Linked DNA regions of Homo sapiens: regions 1, 3, 4 and 5 are each linked to region 2. The links come from fine-mapping of genetic effects on gene expression. A gene starts in region 2. Each other region holds a variant in brackets. All regions are shown on one strand. Distances are from middle to middle.

Region 1 (5,000 bases), 110 kb after region 2:
TTCCCTTCCACCCAGCCTGGACTGTGTACGCCTGGACCAGGTTTTATTCTAGGGATGGGAATGATGGGGCCTTGGTAAATGGAGGGACCAAAGGTAAGAATTCTATCAAAGGTAAGAATTAGGTAATAGATTAACCAGACAGAGTTGGAAGGAAAGATTTGTGAAGTTATTAAAAATTGCTTGGTGTTCTAAAGCTGGTTATTATTCCATTGTTGCTAATTCTGGGTCCCAGTGAATCCACAGGAGAGAAGTTTCACTGTGACCCCACCGCAGCCAGATGTGCCCACGAAGGAAAAAGCCTGAAGGCATTTCAGGCCCTAATTGGTTGTTTCTGTAATGTTTTTCATTGATTGTGCAGCGGCAGTGCAAGCAGCTGCCCAGGGAGCAGAGCAGGCAAGCACCGGGGGCCTTTTCAGGAGGGTGTGTCTACCTGTCATGAGGCTGTCTGCTGCTGGCCTAGGAGATCTCCAAGCCCTTTTGGATCCCCCAGCCCTGGAAAGGAGGCTGGCTCCAGGTGGGAGAAGAGGTAGCACTCTTGCCCAATTAGGAGCCTGTAGCTCCCAGGCTTTCCTCCTCTGAGTGAACATTTCTTTCTGAGGCTGGATTCTGCCCTCTGATTATCGCAACACATCGCCTGTTTGCTTTTTCTTGGTTTAACTCCCACACTAATTTTGTGCATGAATGAGTACAGTGAAACCAGTTTAATTTGCTGTTAATTCTCTGTTCAAAATATTCTCTTCTGTTTAAGGGACATAGTCGCTTTCATCTCTGAGGCAGCGTGTGAAAGCAGGCAGCTGCTAGGGTGGTGGAGGGGTGCCTGCGAGTGGGTGTCAGCCTGGGCCAGTGTGTCTGTGGTCTGTGGTCTGTGGTGGGGGGTGGCAGGTAAGCACCATGGGGGTGGACATTTCTCAGAAGCAACAACCCACAGTTTTTGGGGCTTTACACTTGCTGAGCCAGCGGATGGTTTGACTCTGCATGGGAAAAAGTTCATAGCTGGGAGAAATACCTCCTCACCAAGGGGCTATGGCTGAGAGATTTTGGCACACACACTGAGTAGCTAGTCTCTTGGAGATCACGAGTATGGGATGGGGAAGTGAATTCTACAGCTGATCACAGATAGTCAGGGAAGACATCTGACTGTCATTTAGGAAACACAAACTTTAAACATTCCTTCAAAGTGTCTAAATATAGTGTTTATACAATTTGTTCAAGCTTAGTTGGTGAAAGAGATCTGTTTTTGACAAAATGTTCTTGTTTGGGTCTGCTATGCCTAGCTCTTTTACTTCTCTGCTTTAACCAGGGGCCTTTTAGGGGAGCGGGCTTTGCACCAGGTGGCAGAGTGCCCAGTCACAGGACTGCACTTGGAGAGACAAATGATCTCTACAGGAGCTGAAACTGTAAAACAAAAGTAATGGGGCATGATTCCACAGCACTGGTCACCATGAGTCAGCCCCTGAGACCATGTGGGAGTGGTTGTGGCTGTGGGTGAGGGTCCTGCTTCACTCCCCAATAGCTGCATCAGTACCCACCTCCAGTGCAGTGTTTCTTTAGAATACTCTTGTAAGTTGCAGGTAGAGAAGATTGGATGGACACTGGGGATCAGCCTTCCTCCACTTTCCTCTTTGGAGCTATCCAAAGTGCTGGCTGAGGGGGCCCCAGGAGCCTCTCTCTGAAGCCGACATATTTTCTCTGTGAGTTTCCACATGCTGCTGGCCTACCAAACTGATTGTGGAGTGTGCGCACTGCAGCCACTCCCCGCCACACCTTCCACACATTTCTCTTGTCACTTTCCGCATGTCAGGCATTTCTCTTGTCATTCCCGGCATTACTGACTGCCCAGCATTGCCAACCAGGGGGCAGGGCAAGCATTCTGCTTTGGGAAGCACATGTGGTTTATCCATCAGCCCAGCACATCTGTAGGGACCACCCGCTGGGAAAAGGTGCAATGGAGTGGAAGCCTAAGGAAAAGAGGAAGAGCAAAGGCAGCAGGTGGTGAGGTGGTTTTACAAGGGCCAGTCAGTGTGGCCTGTGGAGTACACCACACTTCTGGCCTCCTCTTTTCCTGTGCTGAGGTCTGGCCAAATCTGGACTGACTCTTGGCTTATGTTTCCTCTTGGTGCTGACCAGGAGCCTTGCTGTGGACATTTCCTCCCAACTGCCCTCTAAGCTGTGAAAGCCAG[A/G]CAGAGCCTTGCCGTTTCCCCATGATTCCCAGGCAGTCCTTGGACTGTTTCGATTGAGCATCTTGCTGTTGGCTTCCCTTCTGAAGCCCCCTTTGCCCATCTGCTAGCTTCACTCCTCTGCCACCTGATTTTGCAGTATTGAATTTTCTCTTGGCTGATCTCCTTTCTCATACCTCTGATTGGTGGTTTCCATAAGATCAGAGGAGACTCTTCCGAGAGCCCAGGGCCCATGGCCCTTCTGAGCGCTCCCATGGTGATGCGATCCCATTGATGTGCCAAGTCTACAGAAACCCAGCTGACAAACACACTAATTATACACGTTCCTCTGCAAATTCATTAATGGCAAATGAGGCCTGTGTTCCCCATGTTTATTCTGTTTCCCTTTATACCCCTTTGGAAGGACTCAAATTCCTTTTTGAATTTTGTTGAAACCATTTAGCCCGAGGGGATAGCATCATAGATCAGAATTAGGCCAGTCATCTTCTGTAGGTACACTCTATTTAGATGACTTAGTAATATAAATTTTATTTAATTTTATTTTTGTTCATTGAGTATCCTCTGGGTTCCAGCTGGTGATTTTCTGGTATTCTAGAGGTCACACAAACTTTTGTGGACGTTTATAGGTATGCTGATAGCTGTAAGAGTTTTTTCTTTTAATTGTACAATAAAATAATGAATGAAGTGATCAAACGTGAAAAGACAAGTTTTAAATATCACTGATCAAATTCTTCTAGCATGTTTGTCCAGGCCACAACCCTTCACTATCTAGTGGTGGGAAAATTATATATCATGGGCCAAATCCAGCCTATAGTTTGCTTACATGAGGTAATGGCAATGGCAGAATTGAGTAGTTGCAACAGAGATCTTATGGCTCCCAAAGCCTAACATATGAAGTTTGCCAGCCGCCAGAGCAGACCATCATAACACTTATCAGAGCAGCCAGTGTGGTCAGTGGTAAACCAAGGCCCTCTTGGAGAATGTGCTCCTGGGTTGGGCTGGAGGACTTTACCTAGACCTGTGCTGCTTTGCAGCCCAGAGGCTATCACCCCAGAGGTCTAGGGAGTTGAGCCACCATTCAACTGATGGTGTTGTGTTCAGTTTGTGTAATGAGATCTCAAACAGTAGGGCCAATGCTTGTCTCTTAATGGTCTTCTAAGATAAGATAATGCCTGTGAAAATAGTTTATAAACTCTAATGGCTAGACAAGTGCTATTTATAAAAGGCATATATCTGAATCCAACTGTTTAGAAATAATAATAATTAGCATTGATAAGTGATTATTATGGGCCAGGTGCAGTGTTAAACACTTCACAAAAAGTACCTCATTCGATCTTCAAATTAACGTGGGAAACAGGTATATTGCATCCATGCTACTGATAAGAAATCTGGGGCTCAGAGAGGTTGTGTGGGTTACCCAGTGCCACATTGCCATTATCAACACAGCTTAGATTGGAACCTTTATCTTTTGACTTCAACTCCAGTGCTCTCTTAGTTGCACCATGGCTGGCTAGGTAAGAGTCCACTAAATAAAGTAGATATGTGTTTTCTTCTGCTGGTAGACAAAGCTTTGCATCATTTTTCTAAAGGAAGGGCAGATGGGCCCAAAGTGCTTGGTGAAACATAAAGAAAACACAGCTCAGTTGTCTCTGGCCATTACCAGATTTAACACTGAGATTTGAATGCTGTAGAGTGAAGTTCCGTGTCATTTTGCTGAGATGCAAATTTGACCCACAGGCACTAAGGTACCAGCCAAGAGGGATGCAAGTGCTTTGCTGATTGCCAGTTATCATCATTGCATTACATACATTAGATTAACTGCCTCCCGTGAAGTGGAAGAAAAGTGACTGACCCCCCTGCCCGCCCCCTCCCCACCAAGAAAGCCAGCCAGCACTGGTGATGGAAATCTTAAAGAAAAAGAGAATAGACATCTTATAAGAAAGAGTAGAACTTGGCTGTATTACTCAATTTAAAAATTCAGTAAAGTCTTGGGCCATGCCCACAGTAGATGTCATTGACTGATTGCATTTCGGAAGTGAGGGATAATTGTCTATGTCAGTGTTTGCCCCACATGTTCTCCCCTCTCCAGCCTGCTAGAATGTGGCCTCCCCTCTCCGGGCCTCCAACATGCTCCTGCTCTTAAATCCAGAGTCCTCCTGGTGCAGGGTTAGAGACTAGAAATTTCCAAGCTTCCTCCTTTGAGGTGCTGCACACCACAGCTGGTAGCCAGGCTAGGGTCTCATTTCCATCTTCTTCCCTCACTGATTCAGTCACTCATGGGCTTGTGCTTTGTGTCCAGCCCTTGCCTGGGAATAGTTCCTGCCCTTACAAAGCCCACACTGCAGTGCAGTAAGCTGTGTATCTTATCTTCCTTTTTGCAAACCCTCTTCTCTCAGACCCCAAACACATGGTGTGGGGCCTTCTGCGTATGCATCTAGAGGCTTCAGTGTGTCGGCATGGAGGTGCTAACATTCCCAACAAACATGAGGGCTGGGGCCATGCCAAGCCTCTGTGACTCTGCAGCTCAGTGAATTCTGAGTGATAGAGGGGCTGGCCCTCTCCATAGGCTGTCTTGGGCCCAGGGCCCAGACCTCCAGCCATGCTTCCAGAGGCCCTGTGCCCCCATATTATCCTACCCAGGCAGCCTGCAGGGAAGGGGATTTGTTCCCTATGCCTGTCACTCTGCGCTGTGTGGAGGGCAATAGGGCTTTTGTGAGTTCCCAAGTGAACCCACTGGCCCATTGTCTGGCCCAACTCTCCACAGAGCTCCACCAGCGTGGTGAGGACAGGGGCAGGGCTGGGAAAGGCCTGATATATTCCTGG
Region 2 (5,000 bases):
AGGGATCAGTATTTTTAGAGGGCCTAGTTGGTGATGTTGCTGTATTTATCCTGGCACAAGTTCAAAGTCCCTAGCTGGGTTCTACTTGAAATCCCTGTACTTGGTGGGCTCCAAGCGCACTCCCAGGTGTGACATTCTGCAGTTAGTTGGATAATGGTCATTTATACCTTCAGCCATGTCTGACAGAGCCATTCAGTACCCACAGAAATATAACATGAGGGTATCAGGAAGAGGGACAGAAGAAAAGGCTTCCTGGGAGAGGTGGGATTTGGGTAGGAATAGAGGTCAGGAAATTCAATTCAACTCATTTTAGTTGTGCAAGTAAACATCCAGTACAGTGTTTGTGGCGGAAGGTGCTCAGTAAACAGAAGGTCTTCCCAGCATGTCTAACTAGCCGCTGTCACTCTCTTGCTGCTTCCTGCTTTGTGATTCTTCAGAGCTCTCCTCAGCACCTGACATGCCACTGCCTATTTGCTTATTATTGCCGCCCTTCCAGGACATGGTAAGACCCCTCAGAGAAGGGCTGTCTACTGTGTTCCCACAGCTAGAACAGGGCCTGCCTGAATACGTGGGTGAGCACATGACTGGCCTGGGTGTGGTTGTGGAGATGGCAAGAGGATACCCTAGGCCCAGAGAAAGACCAGCAGGGCCTGGGCTGAGAAGGCAGGTTTCAGAGAGCTTACAAAGCAGTCTGAATGTCATGCTAGAGTGGTCAGTCTCTCTTCAGCAGACAGTGAGGAGCCACTAGGTTGCTATGCAGGGAAGAGACAAGATCAAGGTTGGCTTGAGAAGGATGAGTTTGGCAGCAGAGTTTGGAGGGATTAAGGGGAGGGAGGGAAGCTGGACTGTCATTCAGAGACTCTCCAGTTGTCCAGGGGAAGGTAGTATGGGTTTACACTGGGTCAGATGCACAGGCATAGGACAAGGGCATAAGGAGGAGGACATGGCAGAGCCGGGGCTTTGCCAGACATGCCTACCAAGTGACTGTGATATAGTGAAAGGGGGAGGGAAGAGTGTGAAACTCACCCATCCATCCATCCACCTGTCCATCCATGAGGGGATGGCTGGGGGTAAAAAAGCAAGTGAAGCTGCCAAGGAGTTGCCCATGTACCCCAGGAGGACGAACTCCAAGGATGGAGTTTGGGGGATACCTCTCTTGAAAGCTGAAGAGGTAACAGAGGGAACAGTAAGAAGTGGCAAGACGGGTAGGAGGAGAAGCAGGACCATGGAAACTGGGGCCAGAGCCCCAAAAGATCTACTGGACACCAATGTCAGCAGGTGCTGACGGTGCAGGAGGATGACAGCTAACTAGGAGCAGGTTGTTGCCCAGGGTGACATCAGGTGGCTCCAGGGACATCACGACACAGCTGGTGGTGTGGAGGCGTAGAGGGCAGCTAACATGGCATTAAGGTGGATGATGAGAAGGTGGAGGTTGATGACATCTTCCCTTCAGGCACAGAGGTGGGGTAGGAGGGAGGGGAGGGGAGGAGGAAGGCAGCCTGAGTCAGAGCCAGGGAAGGAAAGAATTGTCAGGATTGGGGGACTTGAGTCTGGCTGTGGTGGAGAGGAAGAAGTCCCAGCAAAGGAGAGACTAGACACGCAGAGGTGGGGGGTGTGGGGAACTGATTTAGAAAAGCCCAGAAAGGAGAGTCATCCCAAAGGGAAATATCGCATCTGCCCACTGTTAGCTCATTAACAGACCAGGGGAAAGGATTGGTGCCTCCAAGGTGAGAGGCGTAGGAGGAGGGGTGGGGAACCTAACGGGTCATCCCTGACCCTGTAGGACCAGACTATCATCAGGTATGTAGGGGGGGCGGGAGAGGAGGGAAGGACACATCTCCAGCATAACATATAACAGCCTCAAGGTGAGTTTCTGATTTAGAACCCTTGACCATCTCCAGAAACAGGAAGATAAAGTGTAGCTGTGAGAGCTGAGCCTGGGAGAATTGCTCCTATCTCCAAGGCTGCATCCCCAGTTGCTGCCTAAGTCCTTCCCACCCACACTGAAGGCCTGGCCCACAGCAACAGTGCACCTCGCCTTGCACCGGCCTGGGAGAGCCCTCTTGCAGGCTTTGCTGTTTTATAGCTGACTGTGTGACTCCTGGTCTCCCCACGCTGAGCTGTCCTCTGGGGTCAGGGCCCTCTGTGGAAGTTCACAATGCACTGGGAAGTGAACACCAAAGGCAACCAGAGGCTTCTGCAGAAAAAGAACTGCGAAACGTTGGACAGGAAGCAAATCCGGTTCCCTGTGGACCCTGGAGCAAGTGCCCACAGGTTATCTGAACAGTATTCATTCTTTCGACGGACATGTACTATGCCTCCCGCAGGCCAGGCACTGTTCTGTGAACTGTGGATTCTGTAGTGAACAAAATAGACAAGAATCCGAAAATGGTGACCCCATTTTAATGAGGGAGAGACCCCACGATAAACAAAATCGATTAGTAAATACCAACCCATGCTAGAGAGTGAAGAGCTCTGGAGGAGAGGCACGGGTGCGCCCCTGGAGTTGCTCTAAACAGGGTAGGCAGGGTGCTCTTGTCACAGAGAAGATGAACGAAGGCTCGTTTGATCATTTAAAGCGGATCCAGTCCTGGGTGGGATGTAAGGGCACGAGGCCTCCCCAGCTCCTTCGCTGGGCACCCTATGGGGGGACAGGGTGAGTTGGGCGGGCCGCTGCGGTTCTCCGAGAGCACCACGAGGGGGAGCCCGGACCCCTCCTAGCGCCTTCCGAGCCCTCCCGCACAGCCTTGCAAGCAAAAGTTTTTCTTAAACTAACAATGCCAGTGTAAGGAGGTGCTCGCGCCTGATTGGCCGGGGGAATTTTGCAGGTTTGATTCCTTGATTGGACAGGAGGTGTTAGGGGTGGGGAGAGAGCTGATGGTGGGGGATCCCGCTCCCTCCCGCGTCAGTCTGGCCGGCTCCGTCCTCCCGTAGGCTCCGCTGTAGCTAGCAATGTGACACCAGGACGCACTCGCTCTCGCGCGCTCTCCCAGGCTCGTTCTCCCTCGCCCTCTCTCTCTCACACACGCACGCACACACCCACCTCTCCCATAAACACACACACACACATGCACACCCACACCCACGCGCGCCCGCACCGCCCCACGCGCACACACTCCTGCCCACGCCCACGCAGCGCTCCGGGAAGTCCGGTCCGGGCGAGAGCGCGAAAGGATACCGAGAAGCCACCCGCGGAGAGCGCAGCGGCGCCCTGGGACGCGGCGCTCTCCCGGCGCTGCTGCCTCGGCTTGGTCTCGGCCTGCGGGCCGTCGGCCGGCGATGGCCCTGGATTATCTACTACTGCTCCTCCTGGCATCCGCAGTGGCTGCGATGGAAGGTAACGTACCCTCCACGGAGCAAGTTGGCTGCTGGTGCCGGCCGCCTTGGGACTGCTGTGCTCCGCGGTTCGCGGGGTTCCTCTGGCTGCTTTGCGGTGCAGGCATCCCGGGACCCGAGGGCAAGGAGGTTTGGGAGCCTCGGCCGCTGCCGAGCGCGGGGCTTGGGCGGCACCCACCAGAGCGCCCCCGGCTGGCTCTTAGCGCCCGAAACTGGCTCGCGAGTCCCCCGGCTTCCTCGCCCCGGCACTCCCTGGTAGCCTCGGTCTCCCGCAGCCCCCGCTCGGAGAGCTCGGAGCCCGCTGCATTGCGGTGCATGCTCCTTAGCTCTGGGGCAGAGCCAGAGCTGGGCGTTGGGGAGAAAGGGGTGCCTCTGGCCATCCGGCTCCTGGAGTACTGGCGCCCGTCTGCTCCCAGGCACGGATACGCTTCTGAGCAGCCGCGCGCCACCTCCTTTTCTCCAGCTCGCAGTCCACGGGCTAGTGGACTCTGCTTGGCGTGCAAGCACTGCGCGCGGGGGCCGGAGAAGCTCTGCCGTGGTATCCCGCAAGTGGCCGCCGAAGGAGAGGGGTGGAGTTCATTGGCCGTACCCTTGGGGACCAGTCTGGTGGTCCGGGCGCCTGCGGGACTGCAGGTTTCCAGGGTCAGTCGGGGAGAGGTGGAAACCCTTTTCGCCTCTTGAGCCTTGGAACAGGAGTGGGCTGGGGTGAGTGGTCGGTCCTACCTAAAGTCTCCCAGCCTCTCCACCACCCCGGAGAGGATACTCGGCGGCCGGGAGTCGTCGGGCAGCGTCACTCTCTGCCAGCTCAGACTTGGCGGTGCCTCCGGCTTGGTGGCTGGGAAAGCGCGCTCCAAAGACACCGTGCCCGGCGCAGCGGGGAGCCTGGGCGCTCGGTAGCGCTCGCGAATCCCTGTGGGAAATCCCGGCCCAGCTCCCCGCCTCCCGCCCCTTCCCCCGCCTCTGTTCTTCGCAGCCTAGCAGCGGCCGCGGCAGCCTCCTGGGAACACAGCTCCGCGGGAGAGCGGAGTTGGAGTTGTCGGGAGAAAACCAACTCTAGGGGTGATGCGCTGCCGCAGTCCGGCTAGCAGCCCCACTTTCCGGTGTCCTGCTCCGGATGGAACTCCTCTGGGGGACTCCAAGCCGGGGAGGAGCAGCTCTTGGCGACCGCGCAGCGTTCCCATCTGGGAGCTCGCTCCGCTTGTTACTCGTTCCTCGCGAAACTGTGACCGGTTGCCCAGTGGAAACTCCCCCAAACACGATGGTTTGGTGCCCCCCGCCATTCCGGAAAGCTCTGCCCTTCTGGAAGTGAAGCTGGAGGGGCATTCCGGGCCCTGAGGCGCGGCTAAGATTCCCTTCCCTTTTGGCGAAGACCACCGCATCCCACGTTTGTTCTGGTGGCGGCGTGGGGGTGCGGCGATTAATGCCTAGAAAGCTCTCGCTTGCTTTTCCGAAGGTGGCTTTTTGTCTGCCCTCAGTCTCCTGCTTCCCTCAGGGACTGCTGGGCTTTGTAGGGAGGGGAGCAAGGAGGGGTTTGCTTTTTGGAACGTGCAGGAGAAGACTGGAGCCGTGTGGAGTGCCGTCAACACCCTGGCGCAGGGATGCCTGGGTTTGACTTATTGAGAGACACGTGTGGGAGCAGTTGAAATTGGAAATTCAAGGGGATA
Region 3 (5,000 bases), 58 kb after region 2:
CCCCAGAGAGAGAGGAGAGGTGGCCTTAGTTCTTCTCTGTACTGTGGGATGAGCTAGTCTGCTGGTGCTTCTCCACGCCTGACCTCTGGCTGGGTGAGAGCTTCTCTGAGAAAGAGGGATGTTTCCAACCTTGCCCCCTGGGAATTCTCTCCCGGCCTGAGGGAAATGGGGCTTCAAGGCCCACAGGGATGGGGACTTGACCTCACTGACTGTTCACCGTCGGGTGGGGCAGAGGATGGGGAAGTGTGGGGCAGGAAGAGGCCTGTGTCCCAGGCATGTGGTGAGAAGGGGCTATGGGTGAGTCTGGGGGCTAACTTAGGAGTCTTGGTGCGGGCAGTTCATGCCAGCCCCAGAAGGCTTTGGAAATGTGTGCCTGAGCAAGGAGGAGCGGCTGGCATTGCCTGCTCCCATGCTGGCTGTGATTCTTCATTCCCTGTCATTACCCGCTTCACTCTCCATACCCTGGGAGCTCTTGTGGCTACTCTGAGGGCACGAGGGAGGTGCAGACAGTGTCCCCAGGAGCAGGGTCAGCTGGAGCAGATCATTCTAACCTGTTGGTGCAGAGCCAGGGGGGCATTCATCTGCTTCCCCATGGGGGCAGCAGATGCAGCTGGAAGGGAAATTGCATCACAATGGAAGGATGGGCCTTGGCCAGGGCCTGGACCAGGAAAGGCCTTTTTCTCCTCTTCCTGGTTGGACCATTGCCTTCTTTCCTCCTGGACTGAAGATCTGAGTGTGTTTGAAGGGAAAGGTGCTGGTCCTGTGTCCCTCCAGTGTCTGGCTGGGTCCAGCGAAGGGAAAGAAAGGCTGGAGTTCTCAGGGCCAGCAGGCCTTGTCTGGAGGGAGGAATTCAGGCTGCAGAAAGGCAGAGCCCAGCAGGGCACACCTGCCTACTTTATGCTATGCAAGCTTCTCAGGGACAGGTTTCCAAAAGTGACTAGGTCTCTGGAGAAACTCATTTCCAGGCCTCCTTTGGGGTCTTACTGTCAAATCCTTGCAGCCTTTCCTCCCTGATCCCCAGTGCCCTTTGACCCGGATCCCCATCTCCCCTCTCCTCTTTGCACTTCCCCCTCTGCTTTGTCCCCCACTTCCCATTTGCTCCCCTGGGTTTTCCTCCCTTCCTCCATCCCTCCTTCCCCTGCAACTCCCCTTGCAGCTTCCCTTCTTTCTGTAGCCACCCGTATGCACTTTGGACTTTGTATGCATTGGTTTGCATGGGAGGAACACCTGGGCTGTCTTGGCCTCTGCAGTCTTGTTCCTTGGGCTACTGCCAGTCCCTCATGGGGGCAAAACCATGCTCACTTGCCTTGGGTGCCCTGACCTGTGGACACTGTGGCCATTTTCCGCTGCCTGACAAAGGAGAGTTTTTTCCTATCTTTGAGTTTTGTTCACATGTTGTCTTGTAAAAGAAGGTATAGCTATTAAATACTCTTTGTTACACATTTAATGAGTTATGTTGGCTGAAAACCATAAAATGGTGCAAAATCATGATAGCCTGGAAAAATATTGTAATCTTCTTACTGTGTTGTAGCTTTGTCCATGTTCAGAGCTCTGCTATTGTCTTTTCCCAGGCCCTGGAGGCCTGGTGTGCTTCCATGGGCCTTAGGATGAACCTGAGATCTTAATGCATCCTTCTTTGCTGAATGTCTGTTTTGAAACTCTGTCCAAGGGTGGATTTTCAGTAGAATCCCAGGGCTACAAGGGTTTAAGTTCAGATTATGTGCCCCATGTCCCTCCTGGCAGTCGGCTGTGCACTTTACCCACCTCGGGGCGTATTTCTACCTGTTTTAAGTGGTCACAACAGGAGAGTCCATGGCCATCTCGTTCCATCCACATGTCCCCACCCCTCACCACTGTCTGCCTCAATGTCCCCTCCTTTTGGTTGCCCCACCCCTCTGGCAGTCTGCCTTGACCCTAAATCTATAGCCACAGCATGCCCTGCCACTCCCACCCTGGCAAGCAGCTTTTCACAGATGGCTCTGTCAAATCTGGACGGGTTCCGAAGATGTTATTGGATTTCTGTAGCCCTCTTGTGCCAAGAACATATGGGGCTGCAGGAGAGAAGGGGCAGAGGGTCAGGCACTTATTCCTTCCTCTGCCCCATATCGCCTTTGAGCACCTCCTTCATGGTATTTTAGTAATTCCTTGGTGGTGAAGTGATGGGATTTTGAAGAGGATTTTTGTAGGTGCATCCAACTGCAACAGAATACATCAGCCTCATCGGAAGGAGAATGGAAGGCCTGAGAACGCACAAAAGGAGCATTTGGAGAGGGTAAAGTCACATTCCTCTGACACTTTGGGTGCAGGTGTCCGTATCTGTGCAGTAAATGTGGGGTGTGTGTGTGTGTGTGTGTGTCTGTGCATGTGTGTGTGAAAGAGAGAAAGATACATACATACTTATGCAACCTAATTATCGACTGGTATTGTGCAAAGAATGACTAGGCCTGTCTTCAGCACCAGGCCACTGTCATGGGATAAGGGACAGGGGACAAGAAAAAGCAGCAAAACAGTGAGGTATAAGTGGAGGAGTGCTGGACCAGGTTGGGGTATCTGAGCCCTAGGGCTGACTGTGCTGCCCACTGCTGTGAGAATGTGGGTGAGTTGCTTTCCTCTCTGAGCCTCACAGTCTCCTTCCATACTGTCAGAGGGCAGGTGGGGTCACTGCCAGCTCTGACTTTCTATGACTGTCACATCTGAAGAAGAGGAAGCAAGTGGAGCCCGAGTCGGGAGGGAGAGAAAGAAAGAGAACAGAAATAGACAAAGCTCAGAAGTGGAAGAGAAAGAAGTAGAATAGAAAATGAAAGCAGAAGTGAGAGAAGTGGAAAGAAAAGGGGAGACAAAGGGGAAGGCGAAAGCTTACCTGGGGGACTGTTGTCAGCAAAGGCAGAAGAGGGAAGCACTTGTGAGCTGGTGAGTGCTGCTGCCCCGGTGTGGCTCACAGGGCCTAGCCCTCCCTGGGTCACCCAGAGAAAGCCAGAGGAGGCTGTGGGTGCCCCTGGAGACTCCTCAGGGCATGTAGGGGGTGGTGTGAGCAGCCTCTCACAGTGGAGCTGGAAATGGAGAGAAGTGGCAGACA[T/A]GTTTTGGGGATAAAACACACAGATTTTAGTGATAGGTTGGCTGCAGGAAGAAGGAGAGAGAGAGTTACCAAAGATGGCATCCAGGTTTCTGACTTTTACAATTAGTGGATGGTGGTGTCACTTGTTGAAATGGGAAAGATTTGAAGATTACCACTTTGGGTTGACTTTGAAATGGCTGAGACTTGCAAGTGACTATTGAGAAGGAGATTGGATATATGGATCTGGAGCTCGGAGGAGAGGTCTGTGTCTGAGTTCAAGATGGAAGGTGGTAGCCACAGTTACACAGATGGTGAACCTGCCTGCAGAAGCACCGTAGCACAGCAATATTCTTGAGCCCTTCCTGTATGGATGGAGAAAAGAGAAGGCTTTGGGGAGGAAGAGAAGGCTTTGGTCTTCCCTGCCCAGGGCCAAAGCAGGGATGGAAAACAGAGACAGGGGTTCCATATAGGAGCAACTTCACATCTCCTGCAGTGCATTGTCCTCATCCAGGACAGAGAGCCCATCCATCATGGAGTCCTTCCTGGGAGCCCATACTCAAGCCTCCAAATCATCCTTCGCTGCAACCACCCAATACCAAAAGTGAACATTTTTGGTGTGTGAGCAGGCACACATGTTCTTCTCCTGCCCTGGAGATTCACCCAAGGCTCCAATGCCAAAATATGGTGTTGTCCTTGCTGCAAGCCCTGAGGTGATATTGGGCTGAGCTAGGTTGAAGCTCCAGGCATATGACGGGTCTGGTATTACTGGGAGTAATTGTGCGATAGGAGAGCACAGGGCCTGGCTCACAGTAGGTGCTGCATGAATATGTGTGGACTGAACAAATGTCTGCCGGAGTCAGTTTGACTGCAGCCTCTTGTGAGTGGAGGAATAGGATTCTGCTTGATGATTTAGGGGCTGAGCCAAGCCTGAAAGGAGCCGTTTGGGAGGAGGAGATGATCTGTGTCCTGGTCTTAATCCTCTAAACTCTCCCTCTGGATTAAGTCAGACCCACCATGAACCTGGCTGCAAGGTTTCCACTCTTCAAGGATTTGCTTTTATTGCACCGCATTTTGGTGAGATGCCATCAGCCCGCACTGAGGAGCTTTAGAACAGCCTGTGAAACTCGGTGGTGTTTACTGTGAGGGTGTCACTGACAGCATTCATTGCATCACAGAGTGTCCTCTCCATGGGGCCCCATGGGAAGCGTTTGCCTCATGCTTCCATAGCAGGGACAGCCAGGCTTCTCTGAGTAATCGCTTTGTATGTCCTGTGGACCCCGTGACCCGTGTAACTGATCAGGTTTTCCTCATCCATTGACTGCTATAAAATTGAGCTCCAAATGCATGGCTTGGCCATAGAAATTCAGTTGTTTTAGCCTCATCATGGGCTTCAATTTATGTCTTTACGCTTGGTTTGGCTTTCTCTTTCTCACCTATTTTTCTTTAGAGAATTTTTGTTGCCTTTTTTCATATTGTAAAACAAATATAGATTCTCTATAAAAAGTTAAGAAAATATAGAAAAGTATAAAGAAAAAAATGAAGTGAATTATAATCCCCTGCCCACTCCTTGGGACAATCTGTTAAATTTTTTGTTCAGCTTACCTGTCTCTCCTATACATGAGTGCACAACACACATATGTGGGCATATACATATATACACATGCGCACTCACAATAGTCAGAAATTTGACCTTATTATCCGTGGTGTTTAGCAACTCTTTAAAATTTTAGTAATACATATATATTTTACCTGTTTGCTTATATATCTTTCAGTATTTTACATAATCCTTGTAAGCTACCTTAAATCTTCTAAAATAGAATGGGTTATAAATATAAAATGTAAGATTTAAGACAGAGACTTCCAGGCAGGCTTTGAAACCCAGATGGAGGAAAAGGCTGCAGCAAAAACCTAGAGAAGAGTCTGGAGAAGCTCCCCAGAGGCCAGA
Region 4 (5,000 bases), 280 kb after region 2:
ACCTAGTAAGAGTTCACAAAAGTATTTTTAACATATTTATAATGGAAAATTTCAAGCACATGCAAAAGTAGAGAGAGTTGTATAGCAAACTCACTTTTACCCATCATTCAGCTTCAACAATTGTCAAACCAAGACCAATCTGGCTTTAACTAATTCCTTATGTTGAAGCAAATTCAAGACATCCTATCATTTTATCAGTAAATATTTCAGAGCATATCTCTAAGAGATAAGAATTCTTCAGAGTAAATAACCGTAATACCATTATCACATCTAAGCAAATTTATAATAATCTCTGAATATCATCAAATATGCAGAGAGTGTTCAAAATTTCCTGAATGTCTCTGTCTTTCTCTCTTTTTTTTTAAGTTTATTTGAATCAGGCTAAGAAGTTCCTTAAACTGCAGTGGGTTTATTATCTCTTTTTAGTCTCTTTTAATCTATAGTTTTCCCCCTTTCTTTTTTTTTCTTGAAATCTGTTTGTTTAAGAAACCATGTTGTTTGTCCTATGGAGCGTTCCATAGTCTGAGTTTGCTCGTTGCATTCCAGTGGTGGTGTTTAGCGTGTTCCTCTGTCCTCTGCAATTTCTGTAAATGGGAAGTAAAAAAGTTTGATAAGATTCAGGCTTATTTATTTGGAAAGAATACTTCAACTTCATATTCATCCATGGAGGCACATCTTGTCTGATTTTTCTCTCTGTGATGTTGATGTTAGGGATGTTGATTCTCATTGTCCAGATCCAGTCTTTCATTAGGGTTTGCAAAATGTTACTATTCCAATTCTATCATTCTTTCTGCATATATTAACTGAAATATTTTATAAGAAGAAAATTGCCCTTATTTAGTTATGGTTTGTATAAGAAAGGCATATAAATGCTTGATTCTCTGTCTTGATCAGTTTTCAAAATAATGAGTTGTTCTCTACATTCTCCAATTGATCAGTGGAGTGTTTAAATATCATCATGAGCTCATAGATTTAAACATACTTGATGCATTTCAATCAATGGATATTTGTTGAATGAATGAGAAATTGAATAAATGCAAGTTTAGAATTGTCTCTAGGCTTTCAGGTTTTTTTTTCCTCCACTCCAGACTTTGTAGTCCCAGATTTTATAAGGAAAAATGTTGTATGATTTTGTTCTAGGGTTAATTCTACTGCTTGATATGTCCTTAGTACCCTAGGACTTTTACTGAATGAACAACATAAGCCTTGCTTTTATGGATACATTTATCCATCTGCTACTAAACACACCATTTTCAGTTAGATCTTAAATATGTTATCGAAACCTGCTGATGTGTTTCCCACCTGGGAAGGTGTTGGTCACTGATCCACAGGCAATTGCACTTACCTAGTCTTAGCCCCAGCTTCTATACTGTGGCTTTGGGCCATCCCCTCCCCTCTGGGCCTCAGTTTCCCCATATGAACATGTAGGGGTGGCACTATGTCATTATGAAGGCTGTTTCCAATCCTTACATTTTGGGGAGCTCTCCTTCTTCCATACTGCATGTGACCTCTAAGTAAAGGCCATGTAAGCAGCATCAGAGGGGGCAAGCAGAGTATCAGGGTGGTGGGGTGGAAATGAGGAGTGAGACCCACAGGCCAGGGTGAGAGCCTACCATGCACAATCCAACAAGCAGCTCAAAAGGACCCCTCGCTGTAATACACCTATCATTGCCTGTGTGGTTTTTCTTTAATAACTTTCTGGAGTTTGGTGGGAGCAGGAGGTGCCAACCAGGTTAGGAAAGATTTCTGGGATTCTCTGGTAGTATCCAAAGGAGGAAAGACTAGGTGCTGGATACAAGAAGCAGTTTCAAAGTATGAGCCTTTAAGCAGGTTGATTGGATATCTGAACTATCCCCAACCAGCCCTGGGCTTCCTTTTCAGTCATCTCTACCACCTGTCAATGTTGCGCTTTCTGGAGGCTGAAACAACCTTGCCAGCTGCCCTGCCCATCTGAGAATTCAGACATCTAGAGTGCCAGAGTCTGCTGGCATCTCCCTTTTGTCAACTGCAGGGTTAGATTGCCTGGGAATCGATAGCCAGAATCCATGAGCCATCTGATG[A/T]GTAGACCTGCTGCTGAGCTGTTGTCTGCATATCACCCTCCAATTACAGGGCCCCCATTTCCCCGTCTGTTTCATCATGCAACCCAAGCACCCAGGTAGAAGGCCTTTTGACCTGTTGCTCCCATGGACCTGCTGAGGTATCTTAAGATGATGAAATGTCTCTTTCTTCTGCCTCCCACACTAGCTGCCAACAGCTAGGAGCTGATGGGCTTTGTGCTTCTTCAGGAATAAGGGCTTGGCTGATGATAGGGTGTGGTGGCTTATATGGCATCATCCACAGCTCTTCTCAGTCCCTAGGTGGTAGAAAGAAAGAAGCAGCTGGCAGGAGGCTACTATCCTGCCTCCACTCCATCAGACTCACAGTTCTTCTTAATCACTGCCATTGCTAATTCTTACTGAGTGTGGACAGTGGACAGGCCACTCTATGAAGGAGGAGAGATGCTCTTTACCTGCAAGGGGCTTGCCTGATGGAGAGTCCCAGAAAATGTCTTGGCACCTGTAGGTAACGTTAGCCCTTTCTCCTATTTGAGGCAGTTGGGGATGGATGAGTAGATGGTCAGTCACATCAGTGGTTGGAAACCATCCCAAGAGATGGCTTCCTGGTGTTTATTTGGAAGTGCTGAAACAATTGGATATCCATAAGCAGGAAAAACAAGATTACCTCACACCATATACAAATATTAACTCCAAATGGATCATAGACCTAAAAGGAAAAACAAAAACTATAAAATTTCTAGGAAAATGTTTTGACCTTAGGGCAAAGATTTCTTAGATATGACTCCAAAAGCACAATCCATAGGTGAAACATTGGTAAATTGGATTCGAGAAAAATATTTGTATATCATTTATCTGAAAAGGGATATATATATATATATATATATATATAACTCTTAAATGCATTAGTAAAAAGTCAAACAACTCAATTTAAAAATGAGCAAAAATATGCATGGGGATTTCAGCAAAGAAGATACACAAATGATTTTTATACACATGAAAATATGCCCAACATCATTAGTCAGTAAGGAAATGCAAATTAAAAACACAATGATATACTACTTTACACTCACTAGAATGGATATAATTTTAAATTCAAAAATGGAAGTCTTATACAATACTGCTGGGAATGTAAAATTGTACAGCTGCTTTGGAAAACAGTTTGGCAGTTTCTTAAGTTAATTATAAGTTTACCATATGACCCAGCAATTCCACTCCTCAGATTTTTACTCAAGAGAATGAAAACATATGTCCATGAAGTGACTTGCATGCAGATATTCACAGCAGCATTATTCATAATAGCCAAAAGGTGGAAACCATCCAAATGTTTATCAACTGGTGAATGGATAAACAAAATGTGGTATATCCATACAATGGAATATTGTTCATCAGTAAAAAGGAATGAAATACTGACACACATTACACTATGGATGAATGCCAAAACATTGTGCTAAGTTATTGAAGCCAGATTTTTGAAAATGTTGAATGAGTCCTAGAAATGTCCAGAAATGACAAATCCACAGAAACAGAAAGTAGATAAGTGGTTGCCTAGAATTAGGGGGTAGGAGCAGTTATGGGGCCTGAGGGACATTTACGGGGTGGTAGACATGCTCTAAAATTTAATTGTGGTGAGAACTCTACAAATTTACCAAGAATCATTGAACTCATAAATTTACTCAAATTCATTGAATAATTTACAATGAATTTTATGATATGTTAATTATACCTCCATAAAACTGCTTAAGATAAAAAAGAAAGAAAGAGAAGTAGATTCCAGAATGTATTTTGCCAAAGGAACCATGGACAGGGAGAGAAGGGGAGAGTGGGCTTTGGACCCCGTGGGACAAGTCTCAGCCTCCAGGGAAGGCTGCAGGCCACTGGTGTGAGGACCTGCCATTCCCTTCTGCAGGAGTGGCAGTCTTGGGCAGCATCAGCTTACAATATCCTGCTCCCAGGTTTGTTCTCTCTTTCTCACCCACATATCTGGGACCATTCCTGCTCTCTGAACCCCTCAGCCACCATGCCTTTGACTTGCAGTCACAGACTTGCCCCTCTCCCTGCTCTGATGTCAGCCGTCCCTCTCACCCACTCTGTTTTTCTGAAGCCTAGGTCCTCTGATGAGCATGCCCTGCTTTCTAGTGTACATCACTGGGCCATGGATGGCTGGGCTTAGAGTTGTTGGGAGATGGTCTCAAACCTAGGTAGGAGGAAGACGTGGTAGAAGCAGCTTACTGAACAGAGAAGGGTGGGGTAGCAGGAGCTGAAGGAACAACATGTGGGACATGGGTGGAGGGGAAACATAAAGACCCTGAGATGCATACATGGCACATCCTGGTGCTACAGGAGGGACTAGAGCCGACCCATGAAGGCCCATTCCAGGGCCACAACCCAATGACTGGAAGTAGGAAGCTCAGGAGCTGCAGAGGCATTTGTGGTTGACTTTGCTGGATTTTGAGAATCAAGACACACTTTGCTCCCCTCACATCTCCCATACCAGAAGGTTGATCTTTGCCATTGGTTTAGTTATTTACTTCCATGTATAAACAGCCCTAATTTTGGAGCCCTTATTATGTGGAAGACTCTATAGAAAGCATGTGATAGCATTGATTTGTTTAATCTTCACAAAATCTTTTGAAGTAGGTGCTATTATTACCACTCCATTTTGCAGATGATGGAACTGCAGCCCAGAGAGTAAAGTCAGTTATTCAAAGTTTGAGATTCAATCACAGTTATCTCAGTTCCTGCATTCCCCCAGGTTCCTGCTCAAGGGTAGATTTGATGGGGTAAGAGGCCAGGCTCTTAAAGGCCCAGTGTGAGAAGACTTCAGGCCTTCAGACAAGTGTATCCACTGTGCCTGGCAGGGGGAGGAGTATGGAAAGGAGTAAGAGAAGAAGCTGATATCTCCTCCCTCAGAAGAGAGGGATGGGTCTTCCCAAGGAGGTGTTC
Region 5 (5,000 bases), 240 kb after region 2:
TACCTTTAATTAAGGAGTCTTTTATACTTAAAGTACATCCTAGGGAGCACATCCCTGGGTAATTAGAGGAGGAGGCTGAAATCTAGCGTGTTCTGTTTTGGGGCTTGGAATCCCACCAGGACCCTCCTGCTCATCAGCACAGTCCCTCTCATACTCATTTTCATGGGTCTGGCATCTGTTTCTGGGAAATGCTGGACAGCTGGAGACCTACTGTCCACTGGCCTTGAGGTACTACTCCAGCATCTCCTGCCACTGCACATATACTTGCATGATGCATTAGTCATATACCATTCCATAGCATATGAGCTTGTGGCAGGGTCAGGTGACTGGCCCATGTGGAGGGCTGTCTGTAACATGCCAGCACTGCTATACCACCAAAAAGACAAGTTTGGTCCATAGGGTAGTTGGCTCATGGGATTTGCCGAAGCATCTGGTCTAGCCAGGTCCCCAGGTTTGAAGAAAAGAGGGGCATAAGTGTATGGAAATCCTCTTTGGAGCTAACATTCATTTATCTATCTCTCCATTCATTTTTCCTTCCATCCACTCGTCTCTCCATCCATTCACTATTTCCACATACATCCACTTAGTACTCTCCAGTGGCTGCCAGGCTTTAGTCTAAATACTGAGGACAGAGAGGTAAGAAGCCGCTTCTGACCCCAGGAGCCTATGGTTGGGTGGGAAGACAGAGGAGGCCGTTGGCATAGGTAGCACAGCAAGGCCGTTGAGACGCTATCTCTGGAGGACTAGAGCCTCAGGCCCATATCATAACTACTCGGGGAGGGTGATGCCAGAGAGGACTGAGGCCAGTGCAACCAAGCAGCTGGGGGTTGCTTGAATTGGACAGGGAGAAAATCAATCAGGGAAGTGGTGGAATTGGCATATACCCATCCAAACCGGTCAGGATGGAGGAGGCAGGCCTGCATGGCCTGTGAGGTCAGCTGACCCCTCACTGTTTTCCCATTCTGTGTTGTCTTTGCCATGTGGGTGCTCTGCAGTGTATAGGCTACTGTGCCCTGAGACTGAGAGAGATGGGTACCTGCAGGCTTGCACAGTTCAAGTGTTGCTGTCTTCTACATTAACTTCACCCTTCAGACCTGTGGAGGGTCCTCCTAACTCAGCCACCATGAAAGTGTGACTGATGGGTGTCCTGGCCTTCATCTTCTTCTGAACCGTTGTATAAGCATGGGATAGGTTCCTTAACCTCTGTGATCAGTCAGGTCCTATGTCTATTTAGGATATTTCTAGAATATCTAGCAGCTAGGTCAGCTAGGTCCACAGGCAGCTAGGTCAGGAAACCCAAATATGGAAGCTGCATCTTGATCTGTGGACGGTAGCACTGGACTGATGTGACTGGGTTTCAGGGCTGCAGAGGTTTACAAAAGTGAGCAGTGGGGCTTGATGAGCAGTCCTGATGTGGCTATTAGGACAGCTTTCTGCTCTCCTGATTGATTGATTCGGGCAGCCAAGTGTCAGGCCAAGTGGGCAGGACCAGAGCAATGGGGTGGTAAATAGACTACCGAGAAGATAGATGGATTGTTGTTCTTTAATCAGGCATTCTCTCAAGACATGGGGAACATCTTGACCTGGGATATCGCCACCCTCATCCCAGGCCCAGTAATGAGAGAATTAGCACATGCTGAAGAGCTAGAGTAACTGCTCAGGCTTGGAAGCAAAATAGAGGGTTTTCTGTGCAGCAAATCACTTTGAAACTAAATCTCCTTACTCCAGATGCACTCTGAAAATGAAAAGTCTGTTCTTTGTTTCAAATCTCCAAGAGACAGGAAGAATACTGGGATCAGACTGTGGCCTCTGGGGAGGATTTGATAGAATGCTCCCTGGTCTTGGCCTTGAAAACTGGAGGAGGTTCAAATCCTCAGGGAGACGTCCCTTGAGGACAAATGCTTTGTACAGGAAAGCACTCGTTAGATATGTACTGGAGAAAATGACTGGTTTTGCATGAATTTGGCTTTTAAAGGTCACTAGCATTAGCTCCCAACATAAAACCGTTGGAAGGGATTTAGAAATCACATAGACCAAGTCCATTTGACAGAAGGGGAAACTGGGGTCCAGAGAGTTTAGGTGACTTGCCTATGACCAGGGACACCATTGATTTACCATCTATCTCCCCACCGCCCATCAGTGATGCTTTCTGTATAATGATAGAAAAGGAGTAAATGAACCAGCTAAAAGTTTGCACTGTATCTCAGATTCACTTTGGATAAAAGTCTTATTACTGAACAAGCCAAGAGGTACAAGATTGAAATGTGGATTTTACATTTCCTGGAGGTTTCATGATTTCTGCATTGAGTGGGTACAATTAATCTATGTTCTTTGAGTGGTGAATTTTATTAAACCAGGTTTTCTCTGCCTCCTCAGACACTGACTGGTTAAATGACTTATAAAATAAACTTGCAGGAATTCTGCAGTTAGTGTTAGAATTGGTGTGCCCCATATTAGGCTCTACCCTTTTCTTATCACAGTCATTGTTTACCTACCAGATCTCCCAACCTAAGAGCCGCAGGAACATGTGGGCTTATCACAGAGCTCGGGTGTGTCCCCTTCCTGCAAGTATGCTTCTCCCACTATCCTCACCAGAGTAAGGTGTGAGGGGCAAGTTAGCCATTTGTAGCTCCAGTGAACAGTCCAAGCTCCACTGGGGTAGCCTCCCTAAGTCCTGCTTATATAACATGTGTGAGTTTACTTTTCACCCGTGGTGGGGTAGGAATGACAGAAAATTCTTTGACACATATCCAAAGAAGAGATGGTGCCCATTTCTCCTCCCTTTGAATCTGGGCTGGGCTGTGATTATTTTGACTAATGGACTGTGGCAAAAGTAACACTTTACCCGTTCCGAGTCTTGCCTTTAACAGCATGTGCTGCTTCCTCTTTGGTCAGTTCGTGCCCTGAGTAAACATGTAAGTCCTGCTCCTCTGCAAGAGGGGAGTACATAGAG[A/T]ATCCCTGAAACTTCAGGGAGAGAGAGATAGGCCCAGTCTGGCAGCTGACCCTGTCAAGGTGCCAGGCTGCTGAGTTGGACCATTTTGGCTCCTTGAGGCCCCCTATGTCCGGAATTGGTGGGTTCTTGGTCTCACTGACTTCAAGAATGAAGCCGCGGACCCTCGCGGTGAGTGTTACAGCTCTTAAGGTGGCGCGTCTGGAGTCTGTCCCTTCTGATATTCAGATGTGTTCGGAGTTTCTTCCTTCTGGTGGGTTCGTGGTCTCGCTGGCTCAGGAGTGAAGCTGCAGACCTTCGCGGTGAGTGTTACAGCTCATAAAAGCAGCGTGGACCCAAAGAGTGAGCAGTAGCAAGATTTATTGCAAAGAGCGAAAGAACAAAGCTTCCACAGTGTGGAAGGGGACCCCAGCGGGTTGCCAATGCTGGCTCCAGCAGCCTGCTTTTATTCTCTTATCTGGCCCCACCCACATCCTGCTGATTGGTAGAGCCGAGTGGCCTGTTTTGTCACGGCGCTGATTGGTGCGTTTACAATCCCTGAGCTAGATACAAAGGTTCTCTATGTCCCCATCAGATTAGTTAGATACAGAGTTTCGACACACAGGTTCTCCAAGGCCCCACCAGAGCAGCTAGATACAGAGTGTCGATTGGTGCATTCACAAACCTTGAGCTAAACACAGGGTGCTGATTGGTGTGTTTACAAAGCTTGAGCTAGATACAGAGTGCCGATTGGTGTATTTACAATCCCTGAGCTAGACATAAAGGTTCTCCACGTCCTCACCAGAGCAGCTAGATAGAGAGTGTCGATTGGTGCACTCACAAACCTTGAGCTAAACACAGGGTGCTGATTGGTGTATTTACAATCCCTGAGCTAGATATAAAGACTCTCCACGTCCCCACCAGACTCAGGAGCCCAGCTGGCTTCACCTAGTGGATCCCGCACTGGGGCTGCAGGTGGAGCTGCCTGCCAGTCCTGCACCGTGCGCTCGCATTCCTCATCCCTTGGGTGGTCGATGGGACTGGGCGCCGTGGAGTAGGGGGTGGTGCTCCCGTCGGGGAGGCTCGGGCTGCACAGGAGCCCACGGAGTGGGTGGGAGGCTCAGGCATGGTGGGCTGCAGGTCCCGAGCCCTGCCCCGCGGGAAGGCAGCTAAGGCCCGGCGAGAAATCGAGCACAGCGCCAGTGGGCCGGCACTGCTGGTGGACTCAGTACACCCTCCGCAGCCACTGGCCCGGCTGCTAAGTCCCCCCTTGCTCGGGGCCAGCAGGGCTGGCTGGCTGCTTCGAGTGCGGGGCCCACCAAGCCCATGCCCACCCGGAACTCAAGCTGGCCCGCAAGCGCCGCACGCAGCCCCGGTTCCCGCTCGTGCCTCTCCCTGCAAGCTGAGGGAGTGGGCTCCAGCCTTGGCCAGCCCAGAAAGGGGCTCCCACAGTGCAGTGGGGGGGCTGAAGGGCTCCTCAAATGCCACCAAAGTGGGAGCCCAGGCAGGGGAGGTGCCGAGAGCAAGCGAGGGCTCTGAGGACTGCCAGCATGCTGTCACCTCTCACCCCCAGCCACCAACTGAATACATTGAGGGACTGTAGTCCCTGCCACATGGAGCAGGAGAATTCCTCTGCCAATTACCAACCTCTGTCTGAATTCCTGACCTGCAAAATCTTTGTAGATAACAAAAATTTGAGTTTGGAGTCAAGTTTCTTGGGTTTAAATCCACACTCTGCCACTTACTTGCTGTGTGTTCTCAGGCAAATGCTGTTCATCTCTGAAACTTGATTCCACCATCCATATCTGGGGTAATAATACTTTCCTTTCAGGAGATTCGAGATACATACACTATAATGTGGTATAAAGGGCCTGGCATGTAGTAAGTGTGCAATAAGCCCAAGCTGATCTTTGGAATTTTCTCAGCCACCCAGAATTCTATCAGGCAGGGGTGTCTTAGGAATAGCTCCCCACATGCAGTGTGACATCCTCAGAGCAGCCTGGCTTGTCCTCTTGGGGACCTGCAGCATTGGGAGGGATGGGCCATGCAGAGACACAGAGCCCTGGGGCTG

The links. PIP is the estimated chance that this variant, and not a neighbour inherited with it, causes the effect.
Region 1: its variant is fine-mapped to the expression of EPHB1 in cerebellum (GTEx, PIP above 0.99).
Region 3: its variant is fine-mapped to the expression of EPHB1 in whole blood (INTERVAL, PIP above 0.99).
Region 4: its variant is fine-mapped to the expression of EPHB1 in whole blood (INTERVAL, PIP above 0.99).
Region 5: its variant is fine-mapped to the expression of EPHB1 in thyroid (GTEx, PIP 0.99).

What each region holds. Positions count from the first base shown.
Region 1 is chr3:134,903,618-134,908,617 of GRCh38, forward strand. All of the region lies in intron 1 of EPHB1 (EPH receptor B1), which reads left to right. Among named protein-coding and RNA genes, the nearest start is that of EPHB1, 110 kb to the left of the region's middle. The variant A/G (reference allele first, on the strand shown) is at 2,181.
Region 2 is chr3:134,792,353-134,797,352 of GRCh38, forward strand. It overlaps EPHB1 (EPH receptor B1), which reads left to right and starts at 2,908. Exons shown (of 16, transcript NM_004441.5): 1 at 2,908-3,337. The coding sequence starts at 3,280. RefSeq lists enhancers at 2,424-2,633, 2,695-2,989, 3,034-3,083, 3,094-3,283.
Region 3 is chr3:134,850,331-134,855,330 of GRCh38, forward strand. The region is part of intron 1 of EPHB1 (EPH receptor B1); the gene reads left to right. LOC105374121 (a long non-coding RNA gene) reads right to left here and starts at 4,155. Exons shown (of 4, transcript XR_924525.4): 1 at 4,069-4,155; 2 at 3,146-3,417; 3 at 2,861-3,050; 4 at 2,082-2,240. RefSeq lists enhancers at 2,511-2,570, 2,681-2,890. The variant T/A (reference allele first, on the strand shown) is at 3,077.
Region 4 is chr3:135,073,316-135,078,315 of GRCh38, forward strand. All of the region lies in intron 3 of EPHB1 (EPH receptor B1), which reads left to right. Among named protein-coding and RNA genes, the nearest start is that of EPHB1, 280 kb to the left of the region's middle. The variant A/T (reference allele first, on the strand shown) is at 2,061.
Region 5 is chr3:135,035,488-135,040,487 of GRCh38, forward strand. All of the region lies in intron 3 of EPHB1 (EPH receptor B1), which reads left to right. Among named protein-coding and RNA genes, the nearest start is that of EPHB1, 240 kb to the left of the region's middle. The variant A/T (reference allele first, on the strand shown) is at 2,954.